Linked DNA regions of Homo sapiens. The protein of the gene in region 1 purifies or fractionates together with the protein of each later gene. This does not show direct contact. Each region holds a gene or a part of one and is shown in the gene's direction. Other genes may lie near its edges. The genes, in order: SLC26A6, MBTPS2, ABCB8, ABHD17B, ARHGDIB, LMBRD2 and SLC25A46.

Region 1 (4,319 bases):
ACTATGGCACCTAACCCAGGGCTGGGATTCCCTTATCGTTTCAAGATCTGCTCTCCAGGCCTGCACTGCTACCATTCTACCCCTAGGCTTGGCCTACGCCCTCCTGGCTGGATTGCCCCCCGTGTTTGGCCTCTATAGCTCCTTCTACCCTGTCTTCATCTACTTCCTGTTTGGCACTTCCCGGCACATCTCCGTGGGTAAGTGGAGGCAGGCCTAGCCTTCCAGGAGGATGCCCACATCCATCATGGAGGGCAGGGTGAGGGGGCACTGAGCAGGGCAGGAGCGGCTGGGGAAGAGGGCAGCATTGGTGCTGCATCCCTGGGCTAGCCCACGAGTCATCCCCAGGCAGGACTAGACCCCTGACTGTAGGACCACAGAGGCAGGTGACCTCAAAGCCCTGGCTCCAGGAAGATGAGAGTGGGTGAGGCAGCCCAAGGGGCCTGGAACTTGGCAGAGGCCTGAGCAGCCTAAGGCCAGCCCTGACCCCTTCCCTACTCCACAGAGAGCCTCTGTGTCCCGGGACCAGTAGACACAGGTGGGACAGGGTAGATGAGACAGGGCCAGCATTTCTAGCCATGCTTAAGGGCCTGTGAGCTCAGGGTTTACTCCTGGCCTGGCCAAACCTGAACCGCCAGCACTGTCCCTGTTCATGCAGCCATAATCTGAGTACATTTATCCAGAACTGGAAGTCTCCTGGCCTCTCTCTTAAGACCAGGGCTCCAGGGCAGGGCAGTGTCCTCTCCTCTTCAGACCTGCCCCGTGCCGTCCTTACAGGGACCTTTGCTGTCATGTCTGTGATGGTGGGCAGTGTGACAGAATCCCTGGCCCCGCAGGCCTTGAACGACTCCATGATCAATGAGACAGCCAGAGATGCTGCCCGGGTACAGGTGGCCTCCACACTCAGTGTCCTGGTTGGCCTCTTCCAGGTGTGGAACAGTCAGGAGTATGTGCCCCCCACCACCACTTCTGCTCCCGCCACTGTCCTGTCTGTACTCCCCTGAGTGTCTGACCATCGTCGTCCTCCTCTTGCCGTCTACTCATCCCCCTCCCATCCCACTTGCCCTGCGCTCCTCATTAGCAACCCCAGGACCCCTGCCTCTCCTGACTGCCCCTGGCCGCCCCACAGGTGGGGCTGGGCCTGATCCACTTCGGCTTCGTGGTCACCTACCTGTCAGAACCTCTTGTCCGAGGCTATACCACAGCTGCAGCTGTGCAGGTCTTCGTCTCACAGCTCAAGTATGTGTTTGGCCTCCATCTGAGCAGCCACTCTGGGCCACTGTCCCTCATCTATGTGAGTGAGGGTAGGGGGAGGGAGGGGTAGGTGTGCCCCATGGCCTTGAGTGCTAGCTGTGACCTGGCCTCTCCTCAGACAGTGCTGGAGGTCTGCTGGAAGCTGCCCCAGAGCAAGGTTGGCACCGTGGTCACTGCAGCTGTGGCTGGGGTGGTGCTCGTGGTGGTGAAGCTGTTGAATGACAAGCTGCAGCAGCAGCTGCCCATGCCGATACCCGGGGAGCTGCTCACGGTTCGAGGGCCAGGGAGTGGAGGGCAGGGGAGAAGGGCAGGTCAGGCTGGGTCCTTGCCACGTGGGCAGCCTCCTGTATTTGAGGGCCAGCTGGAGGGGGGCTGGGAGGGTTCTTGGGTATTGTGGGGGGCACAGCAGAAAGCCCCTATGTTGGTTTCTTCCTGCCCCTGACAGCATCTCCCCATAGCCGAAATGGTGTTGCCTGTCTCTCACCCTACGTGACTTTTTCCCACCCTCGAAGAAGGTTTTGCCCAGTATCTCCCTCCTCACCTCACAGTGGTTTATGTGTCCCCCTGACCATGGTGCCAGCACCTGCCTCCCTGACTCTGTCCTCTCCCACAGCTCATCGGGGCCACAGGCATCTCCTATGGCATGGGTCTAAAGCACAGATTTGAGGTAGATGTCGTGGGCAACATCCCTGCAGGGTGAGCTCTGGCCTCCATCAGGTCAGGGAGGGTTGGGCAGCCAGGACAGGACCTTGCTTTGGCCTCACAGATACCTCTCACAGGCTGGTGCCCCCAGTGGCCCCCAACACCCAGCTGTTCTCAAAGCTCGTGGGCAGCGCCTTCACCATCGCTGTGGTTGGGTTTGCCATTGCCATCTCACTGGGGAAGATCTTCGCCCTGAGGCACGGCTACCGGGTGGACAGCAACCAGGTCTGGGTGATGCGGGATGTGTAGGAGGCATCCAAGTGTATGGAGGCGCCAGCAACGGGTGGGGGAGGAACCGGTGGGACACAGGGAGACAGCAGATGTGCTGAGGCCACGTGGGGGACTGAGGGTGGGAGAGCAGGACGTGTGGGACAGCATCCAGTCTCTGGGGGCCACTTGGTGGGGATGGAGATTGGGGATGCACAGGCCTAGATACAGTGGAACAGTGACCAGCCACTTCTAGGAAGTCTTCTCACACCCGTACTGTCCCCCGTCAGGAGCTGGTGGCCCTGGGCCTCAGTAACCTTATCGGAGGCATCTTCCAGTGCTTCCCCGTGAGTTGCTCTATGTCTCGGAGCCTGGTACAGGAGAGCACCGGGGGCAACTCGCAGGTGGGCTTTGGGTGTGGGCATGGGTGTGGGCATGCACATTGCTTTGCCTGGGGAAGGAGGTCTCTCCCCTGCTCACTCCCTCCCCGAACAGGTTGCTGGAGCCATCTCTTCCCTTTTCATCCTCCTCATCATTGTCAAACTTGGGGAACTCTTCCATGACCTGCCCAAGGTGAGCCCCCACCCAGCCAGGTTTCAGGTCTTGGCCAGGCCAGGGCTCTCAAATCAGCCAGTCTAGGTTCAGGCGAGGGGTGGGGACACAAGGTTAGGTTCTGTTTTTCAAGGCTGAGATCTTCAAGGTGAGATTTGGAGACAAGGGTCAGGGGCTGGGTGGGGGTTTGTGTCTGGGGTACTGCCTGAGTGCTTGGGCTTAGTCTGGCTTTGCCTCGGTGAGGAGGGTTGTCAGCATCGGGTGCCCTCAATGGCCCCTGGTGGCACTGTCCCCACCCCAGGCGGTCCTGGCAGCCATCATCATTGTGAACCTGAAGGGCATGCTGAGGCAGCTCAGCGACATGCGCTCCCTCTGGAAGGCCAATCGGGCGGATCTGGTGAGTGCACTGGGAGCCCAGGGCAGGGACTGGGCAGCCCCATGGCTCCTCGCCGCCCTCCAACCGCTGCCCTCTGTTCTCAGCTTATCTGGCTGGTGACCTTCACGGCCACCATCTTGCTGAACCTGGACCTTGGCTTGGTGGTTGCGGTCATCTTCTCCCTGCTGCTCGTGGTGGTCCGGACACAGATGTGAGTCCGCCATGTTGGTCCCCTCATTCCAGCTAGTGAGAGAGTACCACAGGGCTCCCCGCAGCTTTCCCCACATCTCTGGGGACTTCAGGCTCCTTCGGACCCCTCTGTTATCCCCTTTTTCTGCCCCCTCTTCGTGCATTCTCTCTCTCCTTCACAGGCCCCACTACTCTGTCCTGGGGCAGGTGCCAGACACGGATATTTACAGAGATGTGGCAGAGTACTCAGAGGTGAGTGTCAGGGGCTGAGTGAGATGGTGTGGATGGGGAGACGGAGGAAGAATGAGCCTTTGTGGATTCGTTCCACACTTGGCCAGGGAACTGGGGGCTGAGGATACTTTGGCTTTGGTCTTTGGGATTTCAAGGGAGGAGTTTAGGTCTATGACCCCCTCTAGAGGTATGAAGGGACAGAGGGAGAGTGGACAGAGATGGGTCTGGGGCTGGGGAGGGGTCTGTCGTGGAGTCAACAGCACAAGCTCCACCTGCAGAGCAGCCGTGGGTCAGAGAGCCGGAATGGCAGCTCCCTGGGGCGCCAGGTTGGAAGGGAGGCATTTCCTGATCTGATCAGTGGGGTTACTAAGTCCTCAGTCATCCATTTATCTCCTGAGAGGTCTTGGGCCAAGTGCTAGGAACATAGGTGGGGGGCTCTGGAATAAAACAAGGCTGTTGCCTGCAACATGGGCACAGTGCAATTAGGCAGTGCGGGGAGGAATTAAGGGGTCTGAGACATGGGAGAGGATGAGGGGGCAGCCCAGCCCTTACCATGCATGCCTGGAGCCCAGCAGAGACCCGGGCTGTGACCCGAATGGGGTGGGAGCGGGGAAGGTCTGATTGATATGACAGCCTAGGAGGACCTCTGTCTGGGTGCAGAAAACAGAACACAAGGCAGGGGTTGGAAACCCAAGAGAAAGGTTAAGAGCCTGTGAAGCCTGCCTGGGTGGTGGCAGGAGAGGTGGGGAGGGAGAGGCACTGTGGGGGGATGGGGATGACACCGTCGGGCTTGTGGCCTAAGCCCCTGGGA
Region 2 (3,500 bases), on another chromosome or scaffold:
TACTGAGACTTCTTTTTCCTTAAAATTGACACCTAATGTCCAAAACTAAGACTAAAGAAGGTTATATATATCCCCACCAATAATTGGGTCCACGCACCTCTTTCAGAGCTTATTAAATGGTATAGAACTAACTAGTCCCGCTATCCCAAACATCACCTAGCCCATTAACTTCTCATTCCCAGTTGTGAGTTGTCAGCCTAGTAGACAGCTGAACAGCTTTGCCCTGCCGTCTTTCCCAGGCAAGGGGGCAAGGTTAGGGGTGGGGAGGAGATGCTTATCTTGCCCTGAATTCAAGACAGGACAAATTCAAAGATCTGGAATTGTCTCTAAAAAGAAGAGTTTAGTATCCCTGCTAAATGTTTGCTGAGCTGTGAGCTCACCGTGGTGTAGCCATCAAAGTGGAAGACAACGTGGGAAACCTGTGTGTTCCTCAAAGTTTAGGGATGTACATAAATTATGTATTTAGAGGGAGAGAGAAATATGTGTGTACCCTCTGCCTACTTTATTGGTTTTAAATTTAGGAATATAATTTCATTGCTTCTAAAATGTCTTCCCACTTCCATGTAAAAAGTCCAGGGTGTCATTTAAATCTAGTTTTTTGTTTTGTTTTGTTTTGTTTTTTGTTTGTTTGTTTGAGACGGAGTTTTGCTCTTGTTGCCCAGGCTGGAGTGCAATGGCACGATCTTGGCTCACTGCAACCTCCGCCTCCTGAGTTCAAGTGGTTCTCCTGCCTCAGCCTCCGAAGTAGCTGGGATTACAGGCACCTGCCACCACACCCAGCTAATTTTTTATGTTTTTTTAGAGATGGGGTTTCACCACGTTGGCCAGGCTGGTCTCGAACTCCTGACCACAGGTGATCCACCCGCCTCAGCCTCCCAATAAATCTAGTTTTATAATGCTACTTTTAAAGAGTTGCATATATAGGCCAGGTGTGGTGACTCACGCCTTTAATCCCAACACTTTGGGAGGCTGAGGTGGGCAGGTTACTTGAGCTCAGAAGTTTGAGACCAGCCTGGGCAACATGGCAAGATTCCGTCTCTACTAAAAATACAAAAAATTAGCTGAGCATGGTGGTGCATGCCTGTGGTCCCAGCTACTCAGGAGGCTGAGGTGGGAGGATGGCTTGAGCCTGGGGGGCAGAGGTTGCAGTGAGCAGAGATTGTACCACTGCACTCCAGCTGGATGACAGAGTGAGAACTCTGTTTCAAAAGCAAAATAAGTTGTATATGTAATAGGTTTTTTTCTTTTTTTCTTTCTTTCTTTCTTTTTTTTTTTTTTTTCTGAGACAGGATATCACCCTGTCACCCAGGCTGAAGGGCAGTGGTACAATCACCGCTCACTGCAGCCTCGACCTCCTGGGTTCAAGTGATCATCCCACTTCTCAGTCTCCCAAGTCGCTGGCACCACAGGTGTGCACCACCACACCCAGCTAATTTTTGTATTTTTTGTAGAGAGGCGGGTCTTGCCATGTTGCCCAGGCTGGTCTCAAACTCCTGGGTTCAAGAGATACAACCACCTCGGCCTCCCAAAGTGCTGGGATTACAGGCATGAGCTAGAGCTACCACACGGGGCTATTTCTTTAAAAAAAAAAAAATGAAATATATACTGATTTTGAAAAGAAAAAGCCACTAAACATCTGTCTGAAATTTGGTGGGGAAAAAAGAGAGATGAGATGAGATACTTCCTGAGCACACTGTAAATGAAGATGTTTAAATTTTGAATTATGGTGTATAGAATTTTTAGAAGAGGGATTAAACAATACCTGCTATCTGGTTCCAAGTGAAGAGTAGATTGCTTTAAAAAAATTCTCTATGCTTTGTTGCTAAAAATTCCTTTATAAATAGTGGAAGTAAAATTTGACCATTCTGTTTCTATACTTAAATGTTTTTAAATCCTTCTTAAATATTGAAAACCCTGTTCTTATTTGTATAAGCCAGTTGTAAGTTTATTTGAGGGCAAAGTAAAAAACATTGGTGATAAAAGTGATGTTGTGATTATAGTAAGCTGGAATTTAAACTTAGAACACAGTGTAAGCCTTGCCAAATTGATAGTTTACATTCTTTCAGCTATAACTACTGTGAGTTATTCAAGGAATATTGAGTTGTTATTTTACCTATTCAGTCATCTGGTGACCTGTAAATCATTTCTGTGTGTTTAGAGAATTAAGGTAGTTGTGGTTTTTTTTTATTATTATTTGCAAACCACACTAAGCATAAGTAGGGCTTGATTGGGGTAGCCCTTAGCCCCCGCTTAATAATAATCACCAGCTTCAAGTCTATGGGTATCTTGCTGCCTTGATGACAACTATAGATTTTCTTCTCCCTTGACCCATGATTTTTGTTTGTTTGTTTGTTTTGTTTTTTTGTTTCTTTGAGACAGAGTATCTTTCTGTCACCCAGGCTGGTCTCAAACTCCTGGTCTCAAGTGATCTGCCCACCTCAGCCTCCCAAAATGCTGGGATTACAGGCATGAGCCACCGTGCCCGGCCCCATGATATTTTTAAACCCTGAGTCTCCCATATTCTGATTTTTCTACTGTTGCCCCAGTCTCATTGCTTAGTATATAAACCAGAATAAAATTGATCCTCAATTCCATCTAAGTCCTACTGTTTCTTGGCTGTTGTTTTATTAAAATCATGAAGAAAGCAAAAAAGGCATTCCATCACAACTATTGAAAAGTGTTCTAGAAGTTACAGTCATTGCTATAAGACCAAACAGGAAGGAAAAGATGAGGTATGAATGTTGGAGGAGATAAATGATTATTATTAGCAAATAATGGAAAATCCAAGAGAATAAAGACTAAGACATCCTAAATGGAAAGTTCAGTTTGGTGATTAATTACAAAGTAAATATACAAAAATAAATGTAGTATTCCTGTGTATCTGAAAGAAACAGATCATGTAATAGGAAGAAAAGATCTCATTCAGAAAGTAATGTGACATATAAAAAATAAAAAACTAACATTTTAAAAGAAGTACACAGGGCCTATATAGAGAAACTACAAATCTGTACTGAGAGATGTAGAAGATTTCAGTAAACAGATGTCGTGTTCCTATGTCAGAAATGTAAAATTATGGATTTACCCCTAGTTATTGCAGTCATTGCAGTGACATTAGAAATCCTAATGTGGGCCAGGCGTAGTGGCTCACACCTGTAATCCTAGCGCTTTGGGAGGCCGAGGTGGGCGGATCACTTGAGGTCAGGAGTTCAAAACCAGTCTGGCCAACATGGTGAAACCCTGTCTCTACTAAAACTACAAAAAAATTAGCCGGGCGTGGTGGTGGGCGCCTGTAATCCCAGCTACTCGGGAGGCTGAGGCAGGTGAATCACTTGAACCCAGGAGGCAGAGGTTGCAGTTAGCTGAGATCTCGCCACTGGGCAACAGAGCGTGACTCTGTCTCAAAAAAAAAAAAAAAGAAAAAAAGAAAAAAAATCCTAATTTGAATAATATTTGGTGGTTGTCAAAATGATTCTCAAATTTATCAGAAAGGATAAGGGGAG
Region 3 (4,319 bases), on another chromosome or scaffold:
CAGGTCTAGAGAAGCCTATAGTGGAGGTGCTGAGCTGCAGCCGTTCTCCCTCTGCTTGAGGTGGCACTGCCCAGCGAGGGTCCACCCTTCCCTTTGAGGGCCGTGAATGAAGAGGGCATGCCTGCTGTCCGCCAGGGAGAGTGCCTGTGCAGAAGAAAGGCAAATGCAAGCCCCCAACTCCCAGCGCCCTGCCCTGCCAGCTCCTCCCACTCCCACTCCTGGGGAGGGATTCTGGGCCCTTGGTAGGAAGTCGAACTGTCCTTCCCTTTTGGGGGCCACTCTGCATCCTCACTTCACCTCTGACTTTGAACGTCTGATTCTTCAAGAGATCCTAATCTAATCCACCAGATAGACTGTCCCATTGTGTATGGTGGCCCCTCCAGTTTCTGGGGCAAAGAGAATGTTTCTATGGACTCTGTCTCCATAACCCCTCACCCACAGGAGCCCGTCCTGTTTGGGACGACCATCATGGAAAACATCCGCTTTGGGAAGCTGGAAGCTTCCGATGAAGAGGTGTACACAGCCGCCCGGGAAGCGAATGCTCACGAGTTCATCACCAGCTTCCCCGAGGGCTACAACACGGTCGTCGGTGGGTGCTCGGGTCTGCCGGGAACCAGGTGGTGAGGCACTGGGACACAGGATTCCACAGGAGCAGTGAGCAGCCCAGTGGGACTGAGGGCAGCAGGGACAGCTGGGGAGAAAGACAGTTGTGTCAGGGAAGACGAGAACCACAGCCAAAGGGGACAGAGTCGTTGTGTGGGGACAGGGGAGTCCAGGCCAGTGTGGTTCAGAACCAGCAGACCAGGCAGGCTGCAGAGACAGGACGGGCTCTAGGAGGAGCTGGAGAATGCGACAGAGGGCATATGACAGGCTCCTGGCCAGGGACACAGTGATGCATGGTGTTTGGAGTCCTCACCGAGTCTAAAAGGCCGCCACTTCCCCAGACTGAACAGAAGAAATGGGGGGCTGCCTCCTCTCCACCATCCATCCCCCTCTGGCTCCTGTTTCCTTCCTGTGCTTTTCATCTCTAAAGTCGTTTCTCATTAGAATCGGGGTGACTGGATGGGCCCCAGGAGAGGGCTCTGGTGGTTCTGAACTAGGAACACGCAGCCTGGCACTGCAGGGCGTGCACCTTGCAGCTTGACGTGCGGAGCTCCCAGGTCTTTTTCCAGCCTTCGGGGCCATGTTTCTCGGCCAGTGTCTTGGCTCTGTTGCACAGTGTTTCAGCACTTCTCAGGATACAGGGATACCTGGGCTTCTCAACTCTGGTCAGTCTGAGTCCAGCCTTCTGAGCTGTGGGGCCAGTGTCCCCAGCCCAGCCATCGTGTTCTAGATGGCTCCTCCAGCCGTGTTGATACACTGTCCAGATGCCAGCTGTCCTCACTGGGTGCTCTCCCACATCTCTTTTGGGTGGCACTTTCCTTGTGTCTCTGATCCTAGTACTTTCTGCTCATTTGGGCCTTCTTGGGGCTGCGTCCTTACTGACCTGTCACCCTGCTGTCACCTTGAGGTTCTTTTTGGCTCCCAGGCTGCCACTTGTGCTGTCCTCTGTGGGCTTCGAATCCCACCTCCCTGGAGTCACTGGACCCCAGAGCCCATGTTTGGGTGCTGGATGTTCCCCACAGCCACAGAGACCCGGGAGGCTGGGAAGGTGGCTTGGAACTGCAGGCACAGGGCAGGGTGTGGGTCATCCTGGCCTGAGGCACTGCCATGGCTGGGGAGGGGCATTTGGCAACTCCCTTGGAGTGCACCAAGCCCTGCTGGCGGTGTCACACCACCCTCAGAGGCAGGGCAAGTGTGCACAGTGGCTGAGGGACCCAGAGGTGGGATGAGCCAGTGCAGGGGGAACCCAGAGGAGGAGTGTACACAGTGTGGGGTGGGGGGTCAGAGGCAGGAGGAGGGTGCACAGTGCGGGGTGGGGGTCAGAGACAGGACTAGGGTGCACAGTGCGGGGTGGAGGGTCAGAGACAGGACTAGGGTGCACAGTGTGGGGTGGAGGGTCAGAGACAGGACTAGGGTGCACAGTGCGGGGTGGAGGGTCAGAGACAGGACTAGGGTGCACAGTGTGGGGTGGAGGGTCAGAGGCAGGACTAGGGTGCACAGTGCAAGGTGGAGGGTCAGAGGCAGGACGAGCGTACACAGTGCGGGGTAGAGGGTCAGAGGCAGGACGAGGGTGCACAGTGCGGGGTGGGGGGTCAGAGGCAGGAGGAGGGTGCACAGTGCGGGGTGGGGGTCAGAGGCAGGAGGAGGGTGCACGGTGTGGGGTGGGGGGTCAGAGGCAGGAGGAGGATGCACAGTGCGGGGTGGGGGTCAGAGGCAGGAGGAGGGTGCACAGTGCTGAGAGGGGCACTTAGAGGATCTTGATGGGCGTTCAGGAAGGACCCTGTGCCCCTTTGTGGGCCACCCTCAAGTGCACAGCTTCAGGCTCCTGCCCTGCCCCTCCCTTCCCAGGTGAACGGGGCACTACCCTGTCTGGGGGCCAGAAGCAGCGCCTGGCCATCGCCCGAGCCCTTATCAAGCAGCCCACGGTGCTGATACTGGATGAAGCTACCAGCGCGCTGGATGCAGAGTCCGAGCGGGTTGTACAGGAGGCCCTGGACCGGGCCAGTGCAGGCCGCACGGTGCTGGTAATTGCCCACCGGCTCAGCACTGTCCGTGGGGCCCACTGCATTGTCGTCATGGCCGATGGCCGTGTCTGGGAGGTTAGTTGTCCTGGGGGCGTGGATCAGTGGGTTGAGGATGGCTTCATCACGGACAGTGGCACAATGCTGCAATGAGTTATATGAAGTTGTGGCCTGGCCCCAGGGCCTTGGGGGCTATATTCTGGAAGCAGCGTCCCATATAGAGTCAGGAGTTCCTGCATTCAGCCAAGCCCTGGCCTCTCAGGCCCTCAGTTTCTTCTTCTGTCCCCTGGGATAGTATAATTGCACCATCAGCTCCCAGGATCAAAAGGAAAAGTACTAGCCGGGTGCCTGTAATCCCAGCACTTTGGGAAGCCAAGGCAGAAGGATCTCTTGAGGCTAGCCTGGGCAGCATAGCGGGACCCTGTCTCTACAAAATACCAAAAAAAAAAAATTAGCCGGATGTGGTGGCATGCACCTGTACTCCCAGCTACTCTGGAGGCGGAGGCGGGAGGATTACTTGAGCCCCAGAGGTTGAGGCTGCAGTGAACAATGATTGTGCCATTGCGCTCCAGCCTGGCATCAGAATGAGACCCTGTCTCAAAAAACAAAAAGGAAACATACTCAGAGTATGGTGCTGGGAGCAAGGAGCAGGGCTAGCTGCCCAGGGTATCAGGTGCAGGAGAAGCAGCGCCAAGGAACCTGTGCAGGGAGTCAGGAGTAGGACCCCAGAGGCCGTGTGGCGTTGGCTAACAGCCACTCATTCAAGCCAAGGCTGAGGGGCTCGTGCAGGGAGACGGATCCTGAGTTGGAGCCTTGGGCTCTGTAAGGGGGACAGAGGGAATCATGTTCTTCCAAAATTCAGCTAAGTAAGGAAGTGGCAGTAACTAATGCAGCATGCCAGTGGCGGTTCCTTTCAGATTGGGCATTGGTTTCAGAGTGTCCCCAGAAGGGACACCGGCCTAAGTGACCATGGGCCCAATGGCTGATAGAGAGGCTCAGCTCTCTGAGGGTTCTGAAGCCTGCATGCCTTGGAGCAACCATCCGCCCTTCCCTCCCATCTTCCAGGCTGGGACACATGAAGAGCTCCTGAAGAAAGGCGGGCTATACGCCGAGCTCATCCGGAGGCAGGCCCTGGATGCCCCGAGGACAGCGGCCCCACCGCCCAAAAAGCCAGAAGGCCCCAGGAGCCACCAGCACAAGTCCTGAGAAGGGCCCCCTGAGGTGTGGTCGCTGCCAAGCATCAGTGTTAGGGCTGGGGCTCAGCCTGGGGGAGCCTACTGGGGACTGAGCCCCCAGGAGGGCCAGCATGTGGAGAGTCGCTGCGGCTGCTCCTGCTCACAATAAAGCCGGGGCCGAGCAGCTGGCAGGGGAGGCCAATCCCTCCCTCCCCTCCCCAGTCCTGCCGGCTGCCTCCCTCCCACCAGAGTCTGCCAGAGTCATTGGGCTGCAATGGGCAGAGACAGAGTTCCACGAGACACCTCCACTCTATTCTCCCTTTGCCCAGACCCCTCCAGACCTCTCAAGAGACGTTCTGGCCAGTCTCCCTGCCCCACCCAGCAGCTTCAAATTGGCCAGGCCTACAGTAGCTCCAGGGAATTTTTAAAAATCAGGGTCTGGAAGTGGGCCTGGGAATTCAAACCTAGGCTCTTCCCACACCCTTGCTAGGACCTCACTTCCCTAGACTGGCGACTGACT
Region 4 (4,319 bases), on another chromosome or scaffold:
CTTCCCTTTCATCTTCTTCAACAGACACTTTATCCTCCTGACCAGGATAGTAAATTTGTAGCCAGAGTCTATAGTAAACATCACTAATTTATCACATCTTTTGCTGGCTAAGCCCTGTGTATGCCTTAGAATCATTCTCAGCACAACACTTCAGGAAGCCCTCAGTTAAAGTTAGCAGATGACACTTAGTTGTTATTTCTGTCCTATTTCTTGTTCCAACCAGAGTAAGCCATTAACTTATTCAGGCTGTATTTTGAAGCCTAAAAAGAAATAAAGGTAGGAAGCAATTAAAGCATTTCCTAATATCCAAGATGTTTTTCTGCCCTTCCCTCACCTTTTGAAGTCTTTTATGTTATACCTACCCTTGTTCCTCTCTTCCTGTGCTTTTTTCTGCTGCTTCTTATAAACACATTTATACTGAGCATTATAGGATATATTTGATTCTGTATTGAGTGAAAAGGGCATTTTTTCCCCCAGATATTCTCAACCATTTAGTCACTCTGTTGAGTTGTTTTCTTCCCATTTTTGGTGTAATAGGGTACTTTTTTCCCCCTATTCTTATATTTAGATTTTTTTTTTTTCTTTTTGGAGAAAATTGGATGCCACCAAACCTGTAAGGTGTTGGTTTTAAATGCCTTTTCTCTGGAACTAAGCAATGGCCTAATTTTGCTAAAAAGAGACAGGAATTTGAAAAAGGACAAGATAGAAGGAAATACTGATAGAACTAACAAGTATTACTTTATTTTTGTCCCTAAGTTAAAGTGTGACAATGATATGGCCATCACTCACCGTATGTTGTATGATGGGCCTTCACTACACCAACATTTGATATTCACAACCAGGTCCTTCAGTGTAGGTATTGGCCTTGTTTACTTATGAAGAAAATGAGAGTCAAAGAGATAGTTTGCCCAAGGACATACAGCTGGCAAACGGTAAGTGGTAGAGTTAGGATTTTACCCCAGCTTCCTAACTTTAAACCTTGTACTCTTTCTCTTCCAAACATTTAGAAAAGTTTACCTTTAGTAGATTTTACCTTTTTTCCACAATAAACTTTATATTATAGCCTTTTTAGTTTGGGCAGTAATTACATACATACATACATGCATGCATACATACATACACTTTAATGTTCTATAGGTTATTTGGGCCACTGGCACTGTGACCAAAGTGATAGTCTTCTGAGCGTGTTCTGAATCTGTGAGGCAGTGTAGCCCAGTAACATAGTGTAGTGACAGCCTGGAGTCAAATCCTGGCTCCACCACTGCCTCATCTTGTGCAAGTTTCCTTTCTCACAACAACTTACACAGTTGTTCTGAGAATTAAACCAAGTAACACACATAGAGCACTTGGCACAATGCCTGACAAATAGCTTCATAAATGCTATTAGTATGTATTCACTTTATGCTAAATTCCTAGCTTCTCCATGAGGTTCTAAGAACTTTTGCTGAGTTACATAGAAATTACAGACTACACTAAAGATATTTCATACCTTCAGGTTATTTGTAAAGAAATGGCAAATATTACCTTTATCATTTTTGACATTTATGTTAAATGAGATAATAATCACTGCTATTTGAAACCTGTCATATAGGATTTGAGTCTGTCTGCTGGTCAGGAATATTTGCCTCACCCCAGGATTTAAAGTACTTCTAGAAAGAAGCCAAAGGCCGGGCGTGGTGGCTTACTCCTTGTAATCCCAGCACTTTGGGAGGCCGAGGTGGGTGAATCACCTGAGGTCAGGAGTTCGAGACCAATCTGATCAACATGGAGAAACCCCATCTCTACTAAAAATACAAAATTAACCGGGTGTGGTGGCGCATGCCTGTAATCCCAGCTACTTAGGAGGCTGAGGCAGGAGAACCACTTGAACCCGGGAGGCGTAGGTTATGATGAGCTGAGATTGCGCCATTGCACTCCAGCCTGGGCAACAAGAGTGAAACTCCGTCTCAAAAAAAAAAAAGAAGCCAAAAATCTGTTTGGAATCATACCTAAAATAGTAATAGTCATTAACCACCAATAAAATTTACCCATGTCTGTGTTTTAACTTTTTATTGTATGAGTCTACATTCAGTTATTAAAATATTTGCTATCTCCTTTTCTTTTTCAGAGCATGAATAATCTTTCATTTAGTGAGCTATGTTGCCTCTTCTGCTGTCCACCTTGTCCAGGGAAGATTGCTTCAAAATTAGCGTTTTTGCCACCTGATCCAACTTACACACTGATGTGTGATGAAAGCGGAAGCCGTTGGACTTTACATCTGTCTGAACGAGCAGACTGGCAGTATTCTTCTAGAGAAAAAGATGCTATTGAGTGTTTCATGACTAGAACCAGTAAAGGCAACAGAATTGCTTGTATGTTTGTACGTTGTTCACCCAATGCGAAATACACTTTACTCTTCTCACATGGAAATGCTGTTGATCTTGGTCAAATGAGCAGCTTTTACATAGGACTAGGATCACGGATTAATTGTAATATATTCTCATATGATTATTCTGGATATGGTGCCAGTTCCGGGAAACCCACAGAGAAGAACCTCTATGCAGACATTGAAGCTGCTTGGCTTGCTCTTAGGACAAGGTAAATTGTGGTTGGAATTTATTTTTCATACTCGTGGTGGTTAGCTAAAAATATCTTGTGTAAGAATAGAATAAAAGCTGTTTTTATTATACATAACTGCTATATAGAGGTTATATTTACTATTATATACCTGTGAATAAATATTTTAGACAGCAATTTTAAATTTCACATAATAGCAAAACAAAGTTTTTAAAGACAGTTTCAGGTTTGTTTGTCTACATTAATACACGTATATATGTATGTTTTTTTTAACTTAAATTCTTAGCTGGAAGTCCATGGTGCATGCCTATAGTCCTAGTTACTTAGGAGACAAAGTCAGGGGAATCACTTGAGGCCAGGAGTTTGAGGCTGCAGTGAGCTATGATCGTGCCACTGCACTCCAGCCTGAGTGACAGCGTCAGACCTCATCTCTTAAAAAGTTAAAAAAAAAAAAAAATTAAATCCAGTGACAAATGTTTGGTTTTTGTAAGCTTTCTTATTGGAGTGTGATATAAAAAATGTTTATTCAAAGCTGCAACCTTTCAAGGAAATGAGAGAAAATACTGACATAGCTAATTATTCACTTGATCTGTCATTAACAGTATGAGGCTGGATTGCTTTCTATTAAAATCTTAAGCCAAGATTTGCATTATTTTATGTGATTACTTCTTGGGAAGTACAACTTAAAGATACCTTATTGGAATTATTTTTCAAGTATTCATTCTGTAAAACTGAGATTTTACTTTATATTCTGTGTTCCTAAAATTGGGAGAGATTATATCAAGTTTAAAAAAATTTTTTAGGCTGGGTGCGGTGGCTCACGCCTGTAGTCCTAGCACTTTGGGAGGCTGAGGCAGGCGAATCACAAGGTCAGGAGTTCGAGACCAGTCTGGCCAACATGGTGAAACCCCATCTCTACTAAAAATACAAAAAAAAAATGTCTGGGCGCAGTGGCTCATGCCTGTAATCACAGCACTTTGGGAGGCTAAGGCAGGTAGATCACGAGGTCAGGTATTCGAGACCAGCCTGGCCAAGATGGTGAAACCCCGTCTCTACTAAAAATACGAAAATTAGCCGGGCACAGTGGCGGGTGCCTGTAATCCCAGGTATTCGGGAAGCTGAGGCAGGAGAATCACTTGAACCTGGGAGGCGGAGGTTGCAGTGAGCTGAGATCACACCACTGCACTCAAGCCCAAGTGACAGAGTAAGACTCTGTTTAAAAAAAAAGAAGTTTTAATGTTATGATAAATTGTTTAATAAAATTTTCTTACTATGTCAGTTATTCTTTGATTATAGCAGCATACATTTTGGGGAACTAGAAATTGCATTAATCTTTTCTAGTCACCAAGATACCTAAACATTTTTCTTGAAAAAAAAATCACAATTTGGTAGACTTCAGTGTATTATTAGTCAGGTTAGTGTACAATAAACAGATACCTTAATATAGGCTATTCTTTATATTATATGAAAATAAAATATCTGACTTCCAGGATGTTTTAGACTGAAGCTATAGGATATAAAGAAAACTTACTGTTTCTAATTTAATGTTTAAATATTAAAGATTTCATTTAGTCAGGAAAAATTTCCTCAATTTTAATAATAAAGTAGTTAATATTATTAAAGATATTAAAAATATCTTTAAAACTATTTTTCCCTCCAAAGAAATGTAATAAAGTTATGCTCTCATAGCGAAGTTCTACATAAAAGGGATTCTTAAAATCAACTGAAATTATATAAAAACATAAATATGGGGAATAAGGAAA
Region 5 (3,890 bases), on another chromosome or scaffold:
CATGAAAGATGAGAAAAAATGAAAGACCCTCTTAATCTGAACATCTTGGTTCCTTCCCACCTGCAGGTGAACAGGGATATTGTGTCAGGCCTGAAATACGTTCAGCACACCTACAGGACTGGGGTGAAAGGTAAGGGAACCCACATTTCCACACTGTCCCAAACTGCTTCTCATTGATACTTTAACTTCTGGTTATTAGCAACTTTTAGCTATAGACTCAGATGAGAATACAATAAAAGCTGTGGATGCCGGCTCTAGGAAAAGGCACAAATACACCTCTGATATAGACATTGACAAGGCCAATGCTCAGGGGACCTCGTTTAGACTGCATCAGCTGCTAACGTTCAGCAGTCAGCTTTTTGGATTCAATATTATCACTCGTAAAGGAGAAGAGTAACCAAGATAAGTTTAAAGGAAATAAAGTATATAAAAATACTCTACAAAGTAAACAACCAAAAAAGGCAGTTCACAGGTACAAAACCCAAGTGTCAGAGAAAACCAAGAAAGAAAAAACTTGCCCAGTGCCATGTGTATCTGGGGTGGGAGTAGGTGGGGGTGGCATTGGAGGGAAGGGGGAGGCAATGCTCAATTTCCTAACAAAGAAATAGAAAAAAAAATATTTTCTAGGATTGAAAAAGCCTGTCTAATTAAAATAACACAACAACATTACTTAATCTGCAATTCTTCTTGTCATGCCTTGGGACCCTGCCTTCAATTTTCTTTCATTAATATAGGCAGGGAGAAATGAGAGGCGGGAAGGTGATGGAGGCACTTTACAGTTCCTTTCTACCTAAGGGTCTGTCCCCTCCAGAGGCAAGAAACAACAAAGCATGTCTCAGTTTCCACCAAATTAATAAGCAAGATAGGGGAGAAATTGTCTGATAAATCTGGATGACATAGAGGACCAGTCAATTTCTCAAATCCCAGAGAAGACCATTGACCTGAAAGATATTGATTGGCCTTTCCGATACCTAGTCTCATGAAAAAAAAGTTTAATTTCCTATTTTCCTTTGGGCATAAAGCCCGTATCACCTCACTTAGACAAAAGGACAGTGACATGTCTGCAACTGTTTTTTCAAACTTATTAGCAACACTTAGCCAACTATATGCCACCTATCTGCCTATGTATACTTTTCAATGCCCAACTATTCTTAATATATATTCCAGTTAACCACCTATAAATAAACTTGATTGGCTATTTTCACCATTTGTCCTAGTTCTTCACTTTTTTTTTTACCAACTTACTGCTGTTGTTGTTCCATCCAGTTATTCTATCCATGAATTCTCATCACCATCTGTTACTTTATCTCCCCCAACTGATATGTTCATAGAATGACAGTTTGTAGATAGAAGATCCTTAAAGTCCATCATATACACAAAGAAATGGAGGCTCAAAAATGTTATATGACTTAGGCCATTGCAGGACTGAGATCAGAACTGAGGTCTCAATTTGTCTGAGTTTTTTAAAATGGTGTAATCTGCTATATCTCCATAAAAAAAACAACAACAACAACAAAAAAAAAAAAAACAGGCTTAATCCCCATTGATTTAGGCCACTGGTTCCCCAACTTTACCTCAGAATCAACTTTGTAGTTTTTTAAAAACACTGATCCCTGGGACCCACAGAAGGTTACTGAACCATAGCCTTTGGAAGTAGGACAAAGGAAACTATATTATTAAAAGGCACTCCAACTTAAAAAATGTTTTAAAGAATAATTTTTTTAAAAAGATGCCTCAGGGCCAGGTGCGGTGGCTCACACCTGTAATCCCAGTACTTTGGGAGGCCGAGGCGGGTGGATCACCTGAGGTTGGTAGTTCGAGACCAGCCTGACCAACATGGAGAAACCCCGTCTCTACTAAAAATACAAAATTAGCCAAGCATGGTGGCGCATGCCTGTAATCCCAGCTGCTCGGGAGGTTGAGGCAGGAGAATCACTGGAACCTGGGAGGTGGAGGTTGTGGTGAGCCGAGATTGTGCTTCCGCACTCCAGCCTGGACAACAAGAGCAAAACTCCATCTTAAAAAAAAAAAAAGATGCCTCAGGTAAATCTAATGTTTATTTAGGCTTGGAAACCATTGCTCTTGACTTTAATCACTGTAGGCTGTAGTCCAGATTCTCCAGTTTGCAGTGTATGTTTTTCCTCTATCAGGCTCTTACCCTAATGAACTCTTCTTTCTTCTTAGTGGATAAAGCAACATTTATGGTTGGCAGCTATGGACCTCGGCCTGAGGAGTATGAGTTCCTCACTCCAGTTGAGGAGGCTCCCAAGGGCATGCTGGCGCGAGGCACGTACCACAACAAGTCCTTCTTCACCGACGATGACAAGCAAGACCACCTCAGCTGGGAGTGGAACCTGTCGATTAAGAAGGAGTGGACAGAATGAATGCATCCACCCCTTTCCCCACCCTTGCCACCTGGAAGAATTCTCTCAGGCGTGTTCAGCACCCTGTCCCTCCTCCCTGTCCACAGCTGGGTCCCTCTTCAACACTGCCACATTTCCTTATTGATGCATCTTTTCCCACCCTGTCACTCAACGTGGTCCCTAGAACAAGAGGCTTAAAACCGGGCTTTCACCCAACCTGCTCCCTCTGATCCTCCATCAGGGCCAGATCTTCCACGTCTCCATCTCAGTACACAATCATTTAATATTTCCCTGTCTTACCCCTATTCAAGCAACTAGAGGCCAGAAAATGGGCAAATTATCACTAACAGGTCTTTGACTCAGGTTCCAGTAGTTCATTCTAATGCCTAGATTCTTTTGTGGTTGTTGCTGGCCCAATGAGTCCCTAGTCACATCCCCTGCCAGAGGGAGTTCTTCTTTTGTGAGAGACACTGTAAACGACACAAGAGAACAAGAATAAAACAATAACTGTGTGTGTTCTGGCTGAGACCTTCATTTCCCTGCTTTCTTGCTTTGAACAAATATGATAACTGGATGGTTCACATTCATGAGTTCCCTCAGAGGGGATGGGGATGAGGAAAACACACTGGAGGAGATATTTACATCTTTGGGAACAAATTGGTCCCCTATTACACTATAATAGGCAATGCACATTCAGAATACAGCCAGTGGGAAATCTACATTTTACTTATTTAGTTAGCTATTTTTAATTTCGACTTTTATATTAGGTATAGAGGGTACATGTGCAGGTTCGTTACATGGGTATATTGCATCCAGGTAGTGAGCCTAGTACTAAATAGATAGTTTTTCAAAAAATGCCCCACTCCCTCCCTTACCCCTCAGGTAGTCCACAGTGTCTACTGTTTCTATGTTCATGTCTATGTGTGTTCAGTGTTTAGCTCCCACTTATAACTGAGAACATATGGAAGTTGGTTTTCTGTTTCTGCATTGCTTTGCTTAGGATTATGGCCTCCAGCTTCATCCATATTGCTGCAAAGGACATGATTTTACTTTTTTATTATGACCATATAGTATATCATGGTATATATGCACCACATATTTTATCCAATCCACCATTAATGGGCAACTACATTAATTCCGTGTCTTTGCTATTGTGAATGGCACAACAATGAACATACATGTGCATGTCTGTTTGGTACAACAATCTACTTTCCTTTGGATATATACATAGTAATGGGGTTGCTGAATCAAATGGTAGCTCTGTTTCAAGTTTTTTGAGAAATCTTCAAACTGGTCACTCTCCATACGTTCGTAAAAATATTATGCCTTGGAATGCTAACGTTACTCCTAAAAATTGGAGTACTCTCCTTGGCCTTACTGTAGAGATAAAAGGTATAGATGTCCTCATTACTTAGAGTTGCTTTCCACAGTGGCTGAACTACGTAACTGCTTAAGCTACATCCCCATGAATAATGTATAAGCATTCCCTTTTCTCTGCAGTCTCACAGTGTCTGTTGTTTTTTGATT
Region 6 (4,319 bases), on another chromosome or scaffold:
TCATATTCCTTGCACTGGACAATTTCAGGTCTAGTTCAAGTCATAAAAGGATTTTCAGTTAATTATGTTATATTTAAACTCACATCAATTGGGTTTTTTTAAAGAAAAAAAACCCTAGATCTCGAAGATGGTTTTGTTATCAGCACATTCTGCATTGAGCTTTCAGCCAACTACTTAATCTATGCTTAGCTTAAAAATAAGATTTGGCTGGGCGCTGTGGCGCATGCCTGTAATTGCAGCACTTTGGGAGCTGAGGCAGGTGGATCACTTGAGCTCAGGAGTTCGAGACCAGCCCAGGCAACATGGCAAAACCTTGTCTATTTTTTAAAACATAAGATTTGACTTTGTTGTGGTATAAGTTGTTTCATAGAATATGAAATTTGAAAATTTGAGTAGTATTTGGTAATGTTCAGAGTTTTAAGCCTTTTGAGTTGTAATAAGTATTTGTTAAATCAGTTTACCATTACACGAGTTTTACATTGCCTTTGAAGTCGTCAGTAATAGAAAAATAGTGTATGTACTAAACTACACAGTATTTTTTATTATTTCAACAAATATTTCTTGATACTACTGTATGCCAGGTACTAACTACATCAGACAACTGGAATATAGTATGGAATAAAATAGTCAAGTCTCTGCTCTCATAGAGTCTCTGGGGTAAGGGGAGAGGTGTGGAGAGACAATAAATATAAAGAATGTGTATTATATCAGATGAATAAATGCATTGAAGGAAAATATAGCAGGATAAGAGGGTAGAGATTGATGAAAGAAGTTCAATTTTAGATAATTAAGAAAAATGAAAATATTGACAGTTGAAATGGAAACTGTTTACCAATATAAAAAATAGTGAAGAAAATTGTTCATTAAATGTGATTTTTCTATGTGATAGTTCATGTAGGAGTATTTTGTATATAAATTTAAATTTAACCATTTAAAGTACTTAAATTGTCTTTTCTATTATTCTAAATAGTTTTAGTTAAAGATGTTTGTTGATTTGAAGTATTTCATTGGTTCTCCCTTATTTTGTTATTTATTTATTTATTTTGAGACAGAATTTTGCTCTTGTTGCCCAGGCTTCAGTGTAATGGCACGATATCGGCTTACTGCAACCTCTGCCTTCCAGGTTCAAGCGATTCTCCTGCCTCAGCCTACTGAGTAGCTGTGATTACAGGCACCCGCTACCACACCTGGCTAATTTTTGTATTTTTAGTAGAGATGGTGTTTCACCATGTTGGCCCAGGCTGGTCATGAACTCCTGACCTCAGGTGATCCGCCTGCCTTAGCCTCCCGAAGTGCTAGGATTACAGGTGTGAGCCACTGCCCCTTATTTTATTTTGTTGGGTTGATCACACTCTTGATTCTCTGTGTTAGGATATTAATCAATTCCTTGAAATACTGTAGTATGTAGATAAACAAAAGTCTAACATTGATTTTACAAAGGAGAAAAAGTTCATATTGCCTTTGATTAGTAAATTTTTTTAAGTATAGAGAGATATCAAATTTTTCAATTTTAAAATAGAGACTTTAAATCTCTATACTCTAACTTTTTTGAGTAGAGAGATATCAAGTAAACTATTCGCTGATGACTGTATCATAAAATTAAGAATGTTTTCAAATGTATGACTTTAATAGTCATTGATAAATTTTCTGCATATAAAATAGTAGAAAAATTAAAAATGAGAATTTATCAAAGTAAGTTTAAAGATTTATGTAGATAAATGGAAGTGATAAATATATTTTGTAAAGCAGTGAGTAAGAATTTCATGAAAGTTGAGTTGTTAGGTGAAATTAACACAAAAGAAAAATACTATTTCAAAAAACAAAAGGTTACTTTTAAATGGTCTCTTTCCGTTTTTTCCTTCCTCTCTTTTAGAAAATCTTAAATTATAGAGGATGAATAATCTTAGTAAAATGTATTTTACTAAGTATCTAATTTCCTAGGATTTAGTTAACAGCTTATTTGCATAAACTATTCTGTTAGGACTTATAATATTAAGAAACAAACTCCAGATGACACTGTATTAAAACTGTTCACATCTAAAATAAGAACTTCTTAATTTGTAATATTGTAAGAACTAATAATTTTTGTTAAGTTTTTGAAAATACAAGGTACGTGAAATTTTTTAAGTGTGCTTTAAAAATAAAATATAAGTACTTGAGGATAGGAATTACCCTTTTAATCTTATTCATAGTCCAATGTGAAGCATGACATTTCTCCAAAGAGTTGATTAATGTATTAATGTACTAATAAATATTCAGATGAAATTTCCAAATGTCATTTCCTGTGTTAATGATGCATTTTAACCTTCTTTTTACTTTATAGATATGGTCCAGACCTGTACATGAATAACTTTGGTTAGTCAGAGTGAAATATTCAATAATGAGTGGTGCAGCTTTGGGACTTGAGATTGTTTTTGTCTTTTTTCTGGCATTATTTCTGCTTCATCGATATGGAGACTTTAAGAAACAGCATAGACTTGTGATTATTGGAACACTGCTTGCTTGGTATCTCTGCTTTCTTATTGTCTTCATACTGCCTCTGGATGTTAGTACGGTAAGGAGTGAAATTTATTTTCACAATTTAAAAGACAAATTTTAATCATACAGCATGTTGGAAATAATGTTATTTCTTAAGACAGCTAAGTTATGTCAGTTTTGAATTAAAAGATTATATGGCCATTTGATCATTAAAAAGCATAGCCAAGGGCCGGGCGTGGTGGCTCACGCCTGTAATTTTAGCACTTTGGGAGGCCCAGACTGGCGGATCACAAGGTCAGGAGATCGAGACTATCCTGGCTAACACGGTGAAACACCGTCTCTACTAAAAATACAAAAAAAATAGCCGGACGTGGTGGCGGACGCCTGTAGTCCCAGCTACTCGGGAGGCTGAGGCAGGAGAATGGCGTGAATCCGGGAGGCGGAGCTTGCAGTAAGCCGAGATCGCGCCACTGCACTCCAGCCTGGGCGACAGAGTGAGACTCTGTCTCACACAAAAAGAAAAAAAAAAAAAAAAGAATAAAGCATAGCCAAGAAGGTAAGTTTAGATAGATAGATTTATAAACTCTGATGTCCTTTAAGTACTTGGTAACCTTTTGATTCTCATTTTTAAACCATACATTCGTTGCTTTAGACAATATACAACCGGTGCAAGCATGCTGCTGCAAATTCAAGCCCTCCTGAGAATAGCAACATTACAGGATTGTACGCAACTGCTAACCCTGTTCCAAGGTATTTCCTTTTTTAAAAAAAATATATAAACATTGTAGGGGACACATTGTTTAAAAATTGAAAGTTTTTACCATCCAGACTTTATATTTATGTAAGTTATCCTCATTCTCTACTAATTCTCCCCACCTCTATTCTTTCCTAGTAGACTTTTCATTACATCATATTCTAATTAAATCTAATTTTTAATATTTATTGGTCCACAAAGCCCTTCAGTAGACGGTAGTGAGAAACTTGAAGAAGTCCTGATTTTTTAGTCCTGGTTCTTCTTTACCAAGTATGTAATTTCTAAAACCTGTTTTTCCTCTCAGCCTATCTCAGATTTAAAAACGTGGGATGTATTTTCACTTTTGCCTAATTTACAAGGTTATAATAAAGACAAGTATTTCTGAACTTATGGTATTCCTTTCATATTGCACATCCTTCAAAAGCATTATAGATTTACATAAAAAATTAATAAAGTTCAAATTGTCCAAAGATTATATTGAATTCATATCGAACTTTTAAGTAAAAAGCTTATATATGTTGACTATAGCCTTTATGAATGCTTTCAGTAGTATTTGCATGCTTCTTTATGCATATTTTTAAAAAATCTAACTTCAGAAAAGGTAAATTTAAAATGCAGGTGTTACTTCCATTTGAAGCACTATTAAAAAAACTGGATAAAGATCAGCAGCAGCTACAGATTGTTGCAAGTTCTTGGGATATCCTTCTAGCTTAGGAATATGGCTCCATGGCAGAATTTATGATCAGAGACTCATCATGTCTTCAAAAATTTAAACAGAATTATGTATAATTGCTAGCATGCATCTCCATAGAAGCTATGTTATAGTGAGTGATTTAATTAGCATTACAATTTTCAGGAATTAATTACCTAATGTTTTCCCCTCCCAACCCCTATAACCTGAAAAAAAAAAAACCCAACCTATAAATGGATTGTGTATTTTAAAGGTAATCATTAGAAATTTTATTTCATAATACATTTGCTTTTAATGATTGTTGCACTTTTAGTCTATTAGTTGAACATTAAGTTTTCTTTTTACCCAATGACTAAAAATACACTGAAAGTTGAAAACTTAAATGACATTTTCAGA
Region 7 (4,319 bases), on another chromosome or scaffold:
AAAATTGGAAGCTTTTATATAAAATGAGAATATCTTTTTTTGAAAAAATTACAACTTCAAAACCCTGGGCCCACACTCTAATGTGGCAACAATGAATTGGAGTGAAAGCGTAATTGTGCTTTAAACACTCTACACCTTGCAATTTGCCACAGACCCCAGCAGAGTCCTTCATTCATTTAAATTATTTACCTGGCCCCTATCAGAATTTGACTTTGAGGTTTAAATGAACAGCAGGTTAATAAAATAAATTTTTTAAAATTGTTTTGAGACTAAACCTAAATTGTCAGTAATTGGTTATCAGTAATCTTATTTTTTTATTTCTATTTTTTTTTACTTTAGAACAGCTGAATAGATTTGCTGGATTTGGTATTGGACTTGCAAGGTAATGTTTTATCTAAAGACGTTTACAGCTTTTATTTATTGAATTTAGAGTTTTTCTTTAATTTACAATATTAAATGATTATTATTGCTTCCTTTAGGTTGTTTCTTTGAAGCAGCAGCTTAAATTTTGAATAATATTTTGCAGAAAAAAAATGACCATTATTTAAAATATATAATTTGATAGTTTTTCCAGTAAGGATAGACTAGTCATCCAATTTTATAAACACAAAGTAATTTTGTAATGAGTATTGTAACTGTTTTCATGGGTCTATCCAAAAAATAAAATGAAGTGTAATCTTATCTCTCTCCCATCAAAATAATAATTTAGAATGGGGTTCATGAAGATCAAATGGCTCTGCTGATAAGAACTTTTTTCATAGGACATTTTCTGAAAGAAAAATTACATGGCATTTAATGATGCCATGTAACTGACGTGTCATTTCCCACATCAAACATACAGTGATCTAGTTTCATTTTATACCGTAGATATTAATATTGTGTATTATATATTGTTTCCCTTACTTACCTGTTTGCAGATCTGGTTTTCATTCTTTTCATGGGTCTATCCAAAGAATAAAATGAAATGTAATCTGTCTGTCTCCCATCAAAAAAGTAATTGTGCATGGAGGCTTCTTTCTAAACACTCTAATGCTTACAAGATATTTAGCAACATAGCATCTAGATTTTGTTCATAATCAGCGTTTGGTGATAGCATTACTTTTTTTTATATCTAACGATCATTTTAAGAAAATCCTTTAGTCTTGATTATTGTGATCCTTAGTGAATACCATTTTCAAAAATATTGGAATTGCACAAAGCTTACATTTCATGCCATAATGATCATTATTTTAAACATTTTAACGAAGAAAAACACCTTATTTGCATAATTAAACCCGAGGGTGTTAATGTCAATATAAATAAAATCTGTGTTTTCCATTCTGCTGGAGTTGTTTTTTGCTTCAATATTTATACTTAAAGCTTTGATTCATTTGATAGACTATTATTACATATAAATATGTGTGCACATGTATGTATATGTCACTCTGAGACCTGAAACCCACAGCTGTAATTGTTTTGTGGGGCACATTCTCAAAATAAATATTTGATACATAAATATTAGTCAATTAACATGGTCATTAAGAATCTTATAATTTAAGATTTATACTTAAATTTATACTTAAACCTTATAATTTAAGTGCACCAAAACCAAACATTTTTAGAATGGGGTTCATGAAGATCAAATGACTCTGCTGATAGGAATTCTGTTATTAGGACATTTTCTGAAAGAAATAATTTGCAGCATTAAATGCCATTTAATTGATGTGCCATTTCCCACATTAAACATTCAGAGATCTAGTTTCATCTTATACTATAGACATTAATATTATGTATTATGTATTGTTTCCCTTATTTACTAGTATGCAGATCTGGTTTTCATTCTTTTCATATTGAATTTCGTTATGGGTAGAATCATTTGCAAACATTTCTAGACATTTTTAAAGATCTATTTAATTTGTTTAAGAATGGAAAACATAAAATAATGCATGATTCTTCAGGCAAGAATAATTTCAGAAAGATACCTGTTGTAAATTTAATTTATCTCTATGTAGACATACATATACATAAATTATTTTTATATAGTCTCTTTACAGAAAATGTATTGGCACATCCTTGCATTGTTCTACGCCGCCAATGTCAGGTAAATGTAATTTCTGTGATCTTTTGAAGCAATACTTCTGACCCTAATATGAAGGGCAGAACTCACATAAATGACATGAAACCAGGTAATTGTTACTTCATGTGAAATGTTCCAAACTTTTTGGTCTCAAAACCTCTTTAAAGTCTTAAAAAAATATTGAGGATCCTAAATAACTTTGGTTTATGTTGGTCATATCTATTGATAGTTACCATTTCAGAAATTAAAATTGGGAAAATTTCAATGCATCTATATAATTCATTAAAATAATAACACCTGTTAGTAAGATAATATGTTTTTATGAAAGTAACTATTTTGCATTTTTGCAAATATCTTTAATATCTGACATAATAGGAGAGAGCCAGTTTCTCTCGTATGCTTCTGCAGTCAATCTGTTGCATCACGTGGTTTTTGAAAGAAGCAAGGAAGTTTAGTCTTGTACACATGTATAGTTGAAAGCAGGAGAGGAGTATATTATATTCTTTTGAGATAATTGTGGGTATTCTTTGCAATTGCACCAAAACTCACTGTGTCGCAGTTTCTTAAAGGTTATTTGCAATGTGAAATCAGAAATCATTTTAGTGAACTTTTTATACTTTGTTACATTAAAAAATCCATTTAACTATACTGCATCTTGAATAGATATTTTTACTTATGCCTGATTCCATGTAATTGTGCATAAGTTATTTGAAAAATATTGACCAATTGAGTTACATAGATCTTCCTGTTGTTAAAACATTTGATTATAAAATATCAAAAAATCATCTTCATTAAAAATACTACTGATCTCACTAGAAAAGTCTATAAGTATTGTCAGCTCTTGACGATGCATATAGATTTTCCAAAATTCTGAGTTTTAGTTGAAAATTCAAACTTATCATTGACAGTAAATACTGTTATTTATTTTTGTTTTAATCAACAATCTCACTTTGTTTATTTTTTAAAATATGTCTGTCCTGAAAGTGAATAGGTATAGTCCGTCAATGAGTTTTTCTAAGTAAAAATGATGTTCCGTGAAAAAAGTGGCTAGTTTAGCTTGCAGTTCTATCATACAAGTGCTTTCCTCATGACAGCAATCTTACTTCCTTATGTAACACACAGGATATTAATTAGAAAGAGGATGTGTACTCAAAGGTCAAGGATTCATAAAATTAACATTTTGTTACTTCATTGTCAAGGATATTACTATATGAAGGTTGCTTTTTTCTCTCTATGGGTAAATGAGGTGAAAAATTACTGTAAGTACGAAAATACAGTTTGATGGTGCTGCCTCAATTTGTGCTAATGAGCTGGGAGTTTTACCTACCATTGCTTTTGTACCATTAGTGAAAATGTCAAGACAGTGAAAAAAGGAAATTATATCTTAGTAATCACTAGGAAAATAATTTTGAACTTGTCAAGCCCCTGAAAGGGTAATGGGGCCCTCAGGAGTCAGTGGACCCCACTTGCAAACTCTGTTATAACCCACTTTTTTTTTTTGTTTGTTTGAGACGGAGTCTCGCTCTGTTGCCCAAACTGGAGTGCAGTGGCATGATCTCGGCTCACTGCAAACTCCGCCTCCTGGGTTCACGCCATTCTCCTGCCTCAGCCTCCCGAGTAGCTGGGACTACAGGAGCCCGCCACCGTGCCCAGCTAATTTTTTGTATTTTTAGTAGAGACGGGGTTTCATCGTGTTAGCCAGGATGGTCTCGATCTCCTGACCTCATGATCCGCCCGCCTCAGCCTCCCAAAGTGGTGGGATTACAGGTGTGAGCCACTGCGCCCGTCCTGTTATAACCCACTTTCTCTGTAAAGTAATGCTTCCTGTATTTGTTAGCTGTTAGAGTTCAAAACAGTATAAATCATTATAAATTAATCTGTTCATGCTTAGCACTGAAAAGTATGTATACAGAAATACCATTAAAGTAGCATTGACTGTATGTGCCACAGAACAGTGTATTTCAGATATATATTTTACATTGTAGTAATATTAACATGGAGATCCAATGGATACATTACATATAAGTAACAAATATATTATTTTTAAATGTTTTATGAAATAATACCATTAGAATGTAATACATTCTAATATTTTATTGTTTCACATAATAAATATTGTTTTGACACTCCCCCAGTTGATTTCATATACCAGTCAGTTGCCAAGTACAGTTTGAAAAATGCTTGCCTAAAATGAACATGAGTTGGGAGATGTAATTCAGTTGTTTAAGGCAAACCAAATATCAAATAAGACCCTCTTTATTAT

What was found.
Region 2: the proteins of SLC26A6 (region 1) and MBTPS2 purify together in Homo sapiens (affinity purification with mass spectrometry; one large-scale study listed by BioGRID and IntAct). This does not show direct contact.
Region 3: the proteins of SLC26A6 (region 1) and ABCB8 purify together in Homo sapiens (affinity purification with mass spectrometry; one large-scale study listed by BioGRID and IntAct). This does not show direct contact.
Region 4: the proteins of SLC26A6 (region 1) and ABHD17B purify together in Homo sapiens (affinity purification with mass spectrometry; one large-scale study listed by BioGRID and IntAct). This does not show direct contact.
Region 5: the proteins of SLC26A6 (region 1) and ARHGDIB purify together in Homo sapiens (affinity purification with mass spectrometry; one large-scale study listed by BioGRID and IntAct). This does not show direct contact.
Region 6: the proteins of SLC26A6 (region 1) and LMBRD2 purify together in Homo sapiens (affinity purification with mass spectrometry; one large-scale study listed by BioGRID and IntAct). This does not show direct contact.
Region 7: the proteins of SLC26A6 (region 1) and SLC25A46 purify together in Homo sapiens (affinity purification with mass spectrometry; one large-scale study listed by BioGRID and IntAct). This does not show direct contact.

What each region holds. Positions count from the first base shown.
Region 1 is NC_000003.12:48,628,852-48,633,170, reverse strand, and holds part of SLC26A6 (solute carrier family 26 member 6), read left to right. Parts: intron 1-86; coding exon 87-197; intron 198-774; coding exon 775-926; intron 927-1,078; coding exon of another isoform or gene 1,079-1,126; coding exon 1,127-1,291; intron 1,292-1,369; coding exon 1,370-1,522; intron 1,523-1,864; coding exon 1,865-1,947; intron 1,948-2,030; coding exon 2,031-2,178; intron 2,179-2,450; coding exon 2,451-2,564; intron 2,565-2,655; coding exon 2,656-2,733; intron 2,734-3,013; coding exon 3,014-3,109; intron 3,110-3,192; coding exon 3,193-3,299; intron 3,300-3,459; coding exon 3,460-3,529; intron 3,530-4,319. UniProt on the Homo sapiens protein: Apical membrane anion-exchanger with wide epithelial distribution that plays a role as a component of the pH buffering system for maintaining acid-base homeostasis.
Region 2 is NC_000023.11:21,863,617-21,867,116, forward strand, and holds part of MBTPS2 (membrane-bound transcription factor site-2 protease), read left to right. Parts: intron 1-3,500. UniProt on the Homo sapiens protein: Zinc metalloprotease that mediates intramembrane proteolysis of proteins such as ATF6, ATF6B, SREBF1/SREBP1 and SREBF2/SREBP2.
Region 3 is NC_000007.14:151,041,520-151,045,838, forward strand, and holds part of ABCB8 (mitochondrial potassium channel ATP-binding subunit), read left to right. Parts: intron 1-441; coding exon 442-589; intron 590-2,451; coding exon 2,452-2,702; intron 2,703-3,689; coding exon 3,690-3,830; 3' UTR 3,831-4,319. UniProt on the Homo sapiens protein: ATP-binding subunit of the mitochondrial ATP-gated potassium channel (mitoK(ATP)). Together with pore-forming subunit CCDC51/MITOK of the mitoK(ATP) channel, mediates ATP-dependent potassium currents across the mitochondrial inner membrane.
Region 4 is NC_000009.12:71,872,872-71,877,190, reverse strand, and holds part of ABHD17B (alpha/beta hydrolase domain-containing protein 17B), read left to right. Parts: intron 1-2,107; 5' UTR 2,108-2,110; coding exon 2,111-2,577; intron 2,578-4,319. UniProt on the Homo sapiens protein: Hydrolyzes fatty acids from S-acylated cysteine residues in proteins. Has depalmitoylating activity towards DLG4/PSD95. Has depalmitoylating activity towards GAP43. Has depalmitoylating activity towards MAP6. Has depalmitoylating activity towards NRAS.
Region 5 is NC_000012.12:14,941,016-14,944,905, reverse strand, and holds the end of ARHGDIB (rho GDP-dissociation inhibitor 2), read left to right. Parts: intron 1-66; coding exon 67-130; intron 131-2,184; coding exon 2,185-2,384; 3' UTR 2,385-2,875; downstream 2,876-3,890. UniProt on the Homo sapiens protein: Regulates the GDP/GTP exchange reaction of the Rho proteins by inhibiting the dissociation of GDP from them, and the subsequent binding of GTP to them. Regulates reorganization of the actin cytoskeleton mediated by Rho family members.
Region 6 is NC_000005.10:36,141,411-36,145,729, reverse strand, and holds part of LMBRD2 (G-protein coupled receptor-associated protein LMBRD2), read left to right. Parts: intron 1-2,323; 5' UTR 2,324-2,380; coding exon 2,381-2,554; intron 2,555-3,130; coding exon 3,131-3,228; intron 3,229-4,319. UniProt on the Homo sapiens protein: Recruited to ligand-activated beta-2 adrenergic receptor/ADRB2, it negatively regulates the adrenergic receptor signaling pathway. May also regulate other G-protein coupled receptors including type-1 angiotensin II receptor/AGTR1.
Region 7 is NC_000005.10:110,741,708-110,746,026, forward strand, and holds part of SLC25A46 (mitochondrial outer membrane protein SLC25A46), read left to right. Parts: intron 1-339; coding exon 340-382; intron 383-2,022; coding exon 2,023-2,080; intron 2,081-4,319. UniProt on the Homo sapiens protein: Transmembrane protein of the mitochondrial outer membrane that controls mitochondrial organization.